Linked DNA regions of Homo sapiens. The protein of the gene in region 2 purifies or fractionates together with the protein of the main gene of each other region. This does not show direct contact. Each region holds a gene or a part of one and is shown on either strand. Other genes may lie near its edges. The genes, in order: MME and POTEH.

Region 1 (3,820 bases), on a different chromosome or scaffold from region 2:
AAGAATAGTGATGCTGGAATAATATTATAATCGTTTTATTTTTTATTAATTATTGTTATTAATCTTTGTCTAATTTATAAATTAAACTTTATCATAGGTATGTATACAGAAAAAATATAGCATATATAGGGTTCAGTCCAGTGTCAGACATCCACTGAGGTCTTGGGGGATCCTCAGAGGATAAGAAGGGGACCGCTGTGCATTATCTCACCATGATGAAAATATCTTTCAAGTAACAGAATGCCACCTCTCCTTGTATTAATAATTAAGTAATCATCAAAAGTTTTCTTGGTATGTGCAGAATTAAAATAAAAGGAGTGGACAGTTCTGAGAGGTGTTTCATCCAGGTCTTGATGTTCCACAAGCCTGTCTGTCAAGGCTGCCATCGACAAATATGCAGTGTACAACCTGCATGACTATACAGGTGGAGGTGGTCCCACTTTCTCTTGTAAACTGTATTGATCACGTCTTAGCTTGGCTTCTCTGGCCTCTGGATAATTTAGGACCACACTTCTAACATATGCTTCTGCAGACCCCTCAATTCTCTGTTGTCTTTTTCTTTTTTTTGGAGATAGAGTCTTGCGCTGTCTTCCAGGCTGGAGTGCAGTCGTGCAATCTTGGCTCGCTTCAACCTCTGCCTCCTGGGTTCAAGCAATTCTCCTCCCTCTGGGATTATAGGCGCGTGCTACCATGCCTGGATTTTTGTATTTTTAGCAGAGATGGGGTTTCACCATGTAGGCCAGGCTGGTCTTCAACTCCCGACCTCAAGTGATCCACCCGCCTTGGCCTCCCAAAGTGCTGGGATTACAGGCATGTTGCCATATAAGGCAACATATTCAGAGGCTCTGGGAATTGGGTGTGAATATCTTTGAGAGGCCATTATCCTGCCTACCGTTAAGAGGGAAGCATTGATAACATCTTGAGACCGTTTAAACCAGTGGTACCCAGTCATAAGTGACCGTGCTGCCTGCAGGGGACATTTAGTAATGGCTAGAGACATTTTTTGGTTGTCACAACTAGGAGAGGACTGCTACTGGACATCTAGTTGGTAGAGGCCAGGGATGCTACTAAATATCCTATAATACACAGAATAGCATCCACAACGAAGAATTATCTAGCACAAAAATATCAATAGTGATTGAGTTGAGAAACCCTGATTTAAAGCACAAGATTCCTTGAAATCTAAGTTAGGGAGGTTACAATGCAATGGAAATCAGTTTCAGGATTCAGACTTACACGGAAAAGTCTGCAAAATCACATACAAGTTTTATAACTCTAAGTTTTTGATGACCTTATAGGGTAAATAAGCGATGAATAATACTTTGAAGCATTTTGATCCCTGCCTTAAGTTGTTATTTCTTAAGTGGTATTTGTTTTACTTTAGGTCTGGTGTAATCTTTCATACTGATGCATTACACATATAGGCAAGTTAATTTAAAGTATACATAAACATCATTTTATGTACATCATAAATATTTAAATCCTAGATGCTCAGATTTTAAATATGTAACACCAAACAGATTTGAAACAGCCTTCTGCAATATTTTACTTCTGTCTTGGTATGGCTTGACTTCTGTATTCCTTGACTTCAAAGAATCAAAGATAAGTACATTTGCTATGACATTCCCTTCCACTGGAAGAAAGGTTCAAGTTGGGGCCATCTTTCATATAATGTAAGCACCCTGAGTGTCAATACTTGCTTTTCCCATTCTCAAGAATTTCTGAGCTCAGGTTTGAACCCACCCACTCTCTTAAAGTGACCTATAGACTTGCTGGTAAGATATTTTATATTTTTTCAACATCTCTCTTTTCATATTTCTTTCTTTTCTTTTTTTTTTTTTTTTGAGATGGAGTTTCAGTCTTGTTGCCCAGGCTGTAGTGCAATGGCGCAATCTCAGCTCACTGCAACCTCCACCTCCTGGGTTCAAGCAATTCTCCTGCCTCAGCCTCCTGAGTAGCTGGAATTACAGGCATGCGCCACCACACCCGGCTAATTTTGTATTTTTAGTAGAGATGGGTTTTCTCCATGTTGGTCAGGCTGGTCTTGAACTCTCGACCTCAGGTGATCTGCCCGCCTCAGCCTCCCAAAGTGCTGGGATTACAGGCGTGAGCCACCGTGCCCAGCCTTCTCTTTTCACATTTCTTTTTCTTTCCATCTACTCTACTCTGGCCACTCTTCTTTAATACTTGCTTTTGTCCAAGATTTCCTCTAGGGTTTTCCTAATTTGCAACAACTTCTAAAAGAAATAGTTGTATTTTTCTGTGGCAGAAAAGATTTCCTAACCAGCAGAAGACTGTGTGTGTGTGTGTGTGTGCGCGCACGAGTGTGTGTGTTTATGAGTATGCAGAGTGTATCCATGAGGGTGTGTGTCATCTTATTTATTCTCCTAGGAAGAATAGTAACTACCAATGTGAACAAGTATTCTAATGGCTTGTGAACCAACAGAGCAGAATGAAGAAAAATATACAGCTATACAGCAACCTTGTTTACCACTGAAGTTATTTCTATTGTATACATTTCTCTGCCAAGATACATCCTGCAAGGTGTTTTACATTTGGTTTGATTTCTAAGCTACAATTAAAGGATACAGGTTAAATACATTTTAGTGAGTTGAGACTTGCCAAACACTATTTAAAAATCCTATCTCTAAACATTAAGTCACATTTAAGATTCCAGATTCTGAATGTCACATTGCTCCTTGGGAGGAAAAACCTGCCTAGATCTCTGAGGCAAAATCACTTGTCGTTTATAGAAATACACCTACCTAGTCAAAAAATCCAGTTTCTTCGAAAATAAAATTCAAGGAAAAGAAGAGAAAAAGGAAAAATAGTGAGAGAAGAGAGAATCTATAGATTAAGATACCAAAGAGACATGTCAAGTGTATTAAAGACAGAGGAATTAACCCTTAGTAGTCAATATGTAAGTGGAAGTTTCCCGAAACAGGACAGCCTGAGCATATAATAGGGTAGCTGGTAGAGAGAGGAAGCATAGGAGGATCTGGGGAGGAAGTAAACGTTAACTTTGACAACTTGGGCACATGCTGACTTTTGCACATGACCACGGAGATCCCCCAGCCAAGGTACCTGTGCAGCCATTTCCCTGGGGAATAAAGAAACTTCGTTTTTGGGAAAAACTTACTATGTCGAGCAGCAAATGGCTAACATCTAAATCAAGTCTCCCTCACGCTCCCCACATCACATCTCAGGGTGTCTAGTCATTGCTCTTGTGACCCAGAGCAAAAAAATCCATCAAAAAACGATACAAAAAAAAAAAAAAACCAAAGGGCACAGATTCAGGATATTAGACTATAACCTAGAATTGCCAGATATTTTCCCGTCATTTTTTTGCAAAGTTCAGTGAATAACAAAAATCCAAGTAAAGAATATCCAAGACTGGGTGCAGTGGCTCATGCCTGTAATCCCAGCACTTTGGGAAGACAAGTAGGAGGACTGCTTGATCTCAGGAGTTCAAGACCAAGCTTGGGCAACATAGTGAGACCCTGTCTCTACAAAAAAAAAAAACAAAAAAAAACAAAAAAAACAAAAAACCCACAACCTAGCCAGGAATGGTGGCAGGTGCCTATAGTCCCAGCTACTCAGGAGGCTCAGGCAGGAGGATGCCTTGAGCCCAGGAGATCAAGGCTGCAGTAAGCTGTGATCACAATACTGCACTCCAGCCTGGGTGACAGAGCAAGATCCTGCCTCAAATAAATAAATAAATAAAATTAAAAATATCCAGCAGAAAATGGTTAAAATTATTTGGAACAGTTTATTTATTTCTTATAAGACACATAGATGTTAGAAAGGAGGTTTAGAATCT
Region 2 (3,920 bases):
GCTTATTTTATTGCATATATAGGCCAGGCATGGTGGCTCACGCCTGTAACCACAGCACTTTGGGAGGCCAAGGTGGGTGGATCACGAGGACAGGAGTTCAAGACCAGCCTGGCCAAGATGGTGAAACCCCATCTCTACTAAAAATACAAAACAATTAGCCAGGTGTGGTGGCAGGCGCCTGTAATCCCAGCTACTCAGTAGGCTGAAGCAGAGAATTGCTTGAACCTATGAGGCAGAGGTTGCAGTGAGCTGAGATCGCACCACTGCACTCCAGCCTGGGCAACAGAGTGAGACTCCATCAAAAAAAAAAAGAAATTTATATATATATATATATATATATGTATCTGCATATGTAAATAGGCACTTGTGTTTTCTTCTGGTATGTTTCTCTTTTTGTATATTTAAAATTTTTAATCTATACTCTGATTTTTGTGATATAAACATCTAGCTAGTTTTCTCCAAAAATGAATTATGAACAATCCATCTTTTTTAAATAATACAAAACATCACCATTATCAAGCGCTAAATTCCTACATATATTTCGGTATTTCTAAATTTCCTGTTCTGTTTTATTCATTGATGTCTTTTCAGCTGTTAGTAAACAATTTGTGGAAATAAATAACATGCACATTTTGACATCTGGAAAAGCAAGCCTTTGTCCATTCTGCTACAAAAAAATTAACTTAGCACAATAATAAAAGACAGCATGTGTAATTTAAAAACTCTAAAACTGCTATTTTTATTTGGCTTAAGTAAAAGTGATAAATAGAAAAAGCTCACTTTTTTTTTTTTTTTTTTTTGAGACGGAGTCTTGCTCTGTCTCCCAGGCTCTACTACAGTGGCGTGATCTCGGCTCACTGCAAGCTCCGCCTCCCAGGTTCACGCCATTCTCCTGCCTCAGCCTCCTGAGTAGCTGGGACTACAGGTGCCTGCCACCGCGTCCAGCTAATTTTTTTTATATTTTTTAGTAGAGACGGGGTTTCACCGTGTTAGCAAGGATGGTCTCGATCTCCTGACCCCATGATCTGCCCTCCTCAGCCTCCCAAAGTGCTGGGATTACAGGTGTGAGCCACCACGCCCAGCCAAAAAGCTCACATCTTCAGAAAATTCAATCTTCCTATTCAAGCACAAGAACCATCTTCCCATTTCAGTTTCCTTCTAAGATTACTCAGTAAAGAACATATTTACATAGTGTACATTGATATAAAATCCATACTGGATTTTATTTGAAGAATATTTAGCCCTGAAGTTGATGTGTTATGGGGCTTCATTCTTAGTTCTCAATATACACTTTTTTAATGTATAGAACATTGTTTTAAAATCTGTACATTAAAAATAATCTGCTGCATCGACAACGTTGCGAGTTAAATCACTTCAAAACAGTCTATTCGTGTTCTAGGAAGGAAATTATGATTTGATTGGAAATCAGCTAAAGTTTTGTTTTTGTGTTGCTGCTCATAAAGGGGCCTGTGCCCTGAACTCTCTGAGGTTTCCACATCCAGGGTGGTGTGAGGCCTGTGGAGGCAAGAAAACCAGGCTCCCCTCCTCCCCGGCCAGGAGGGTATGTCCCCATCATCCTCCCACATCCCACCTCCTCCCAGCCCAGGCCTGGTTACCTCTTTTGCTTGTCCTTCTTGTTCATGTCAGTGTCCTTGAGCATGACGATGAGATCCTTTCTGGGGACTTTACCCCACCAGGCAGCTCTGTGGAGCTTGTCCAGATCTTCTCGACGGACGTGGTACCTCGGCTCCATGAAAGCGCTGTCGTCGTAGTCTCCCCAAGGGCCCACTTTGTTCTTGCCGCTCCCCCTGCAGCAGGGGAAGCAGTGGCAGCACCACTTGCCCATCTTGCTCCTGAGTGTCTTCATAGCAGAGTCGTCGTGGTCTCCAGAAGTGCCCACGTTGCTCTTGCCGCTCCCCCTGCAGCAGGGGAAGCAGTGGCAGCACCACTTGCCCATCTTGCTCCTGAGTGTCTTCATAGCAGAATCGTCGTGGTCTCCAGAAGTGCCCACGTTGCTCTTGCCGCTCCCCCTGCACCAGGGGAAGCAGTGGCAGCACCACTTGCCCATCTTGCTCCTGAGTGTCTTCATAGCAGAATCGTCGTGGTCTCCAGAAGTGCCCACGTTGCTCTTGCCGCTCCCCCTGCACCAGGCGAAGCAGTGGCGGCACCACTTGCCCATCTTGCTTCTGAGACCAAATGGCTTCTTCACAGAGGAGGCAGCCGGCATTGAACCAGCCTCAGCCACCATCTGCTTTTAACAGCCAGGGAAGGCCGGTAGTAGCCAGCAGATCGCGTCTACCAACCAGTTTCACCAACTGGCAGATAACTCCGGGTTTCTAATCTGTTTGAAGAGAAAAGTCCCGACCAAAACCTGCCAACCCCAGCAGGGGAGCCCAGCCCACCCCACCCAGGGAAAACCCACACCCACCTGGGGAAAGCCCACACCCACGCTGGGCGACCCCACGCCCACCCCAGGAAGGGCCAACCCCACCCCCCAAGAAAACACCCGGCCCACCCAAGGGAATGCCAAACCCAGAAGAGAAAAGGTCAAGTCCAGCAAAGTAACGTGACAGAAAAAACGTCAGTCCAAGGAAGAAATGTCAATCCAAGCGACAAATGCCAAGCCAAGCAAAGAACGCAAAGCCAAGCCAAGCGCTACAGGCCAGCCAAGCCGTTACGCACGTGCAGTGTGCGCATGCCGACTGTTACAGACCAGCCAAGCCGTTAACGCGCGTGCAGCATGCGCGTGCAAGCCATTACAGGCCAGCCAAGCCATTACGCACGTGCGGCATGCGCGTGCAAGCAGTTACAGGCCAGCCAAACCGTTATACGCGTCCGGCGTGCGCGCACGGCATGCACGTGCAAGCCCTTACAAGCCAGCCAAGCCACTGCCACGCGTGTGGCGTGCGCGCGCGGCATGCACGTGCAAGCCGTTACAAGCCAGCCAAGCCACTGCCGCGCGTGCGGCGTGCGCGTGCGGCGTGCGCGTGCGGCGTGCGCGTGCGGCGTGCGCGTGCGGCGTGCGCGTGCGGCGTGCGCGTGCGGCGTGCGCGTGCGGCGTGCGCATCTCTGGTGGTGTCAGTACACGTGGCACAGACAGTTGCGGATGCGTGCAACCTGCATAAGTCTTGGAACCACAAATGTCACTGACAGCCTGGTGTTCCCGGCAAACTTCCTGGGAGTCAGCCGAGCTTTCAGGCCATTGAGAAGCCTCTGGTGAAAGAAAAAGCTTCTTGAAGCAGGACTGGGGCTAAGTGGCTGGAACTTGAGGATGCTGACAGCCTCCTCTGAAGAAAGCCCCCAGGACACTCCTGGTGGTGCTGTTGTGCATGGCCGCTGCTGCAGCTCAGAGCACCGGCTGGCGGAGCTGGCTGCAAATGGCCTCAAAATCACGGAGCATGTTCTCACTCACAGGTGGGAATGGAACGAGAACACACGGACACAGGAAGGGGAACATCACACACCGGGGACTGTTGTGTGGGGGGAGGGGGGAGGGATAGCATTAGGAGATATACCTAATGCTAAATGACGAGTTAATGGGTGCAGCACACCAACATGGCACATGTATACATATGTAACAAACCTGCACGTTATGCACATGTACCCTAAAACTTAAAGTATAATAATAATAAAATTTGAAAAAAAAAATCATGGAGCACAAGACGCCCACCGAGCCCAGCACCTGCCTGAGGTGCCTTCGATACCTGCTCCTCCTTGCTCCACACCCAGAACACGAGGCCATCAGCGAGGGGGCATTTGGGGCCACAGGATCGCAGCCAGCTCCTGCCCCGGTGCCCCCTGCCTGTCCAAGCCAGGGCCAACATCTGTGGGGCTTCTGGCCTGGGGGGCTCTGCTCCACTGGCATGCAATAGGGTCAAGGTGCAGGCCGCTGTGTCCAGGCCAGCAAGAGGGGGCTTGGA

What was found.
Region 1: the proteins of POTEH (region 2) and MME purify together in Homo sapiens (co-immunoprecipitation; one large-scale study listed by IntAct). This does not show direct contact.

Annotation. Positions count from the first base shown.
Region 1 is NC_000003.12:155,086,708-155,090,527, reverse strand, and holds part of MME (neprilysin), read right to left. Parts: intron 695-3,820; coding exon of another isoform or gene 648-694; exon of another isoform or gene 28-647; intron 1-27. UniProt on the Homo sapiens protein: Thermolysin-like specificity, but is almost confined on acting on polypeptides of up to 30 amino acids. Biologically important in the destruction of opioid peptides such as Met- and Leu-enkephalins by cleavage of a Gly-Phe bond.
Region 2 is NC_000022.11:15,688,406-15,692,325, reverse strand, and holds the start of POTEH (POTE ankyrin domain family member H), read right to left. Parts: upstream 2,301-3,920; 5' UTR 2,249-2,300; coding exon 1,617-2,248; intron 1-1,616.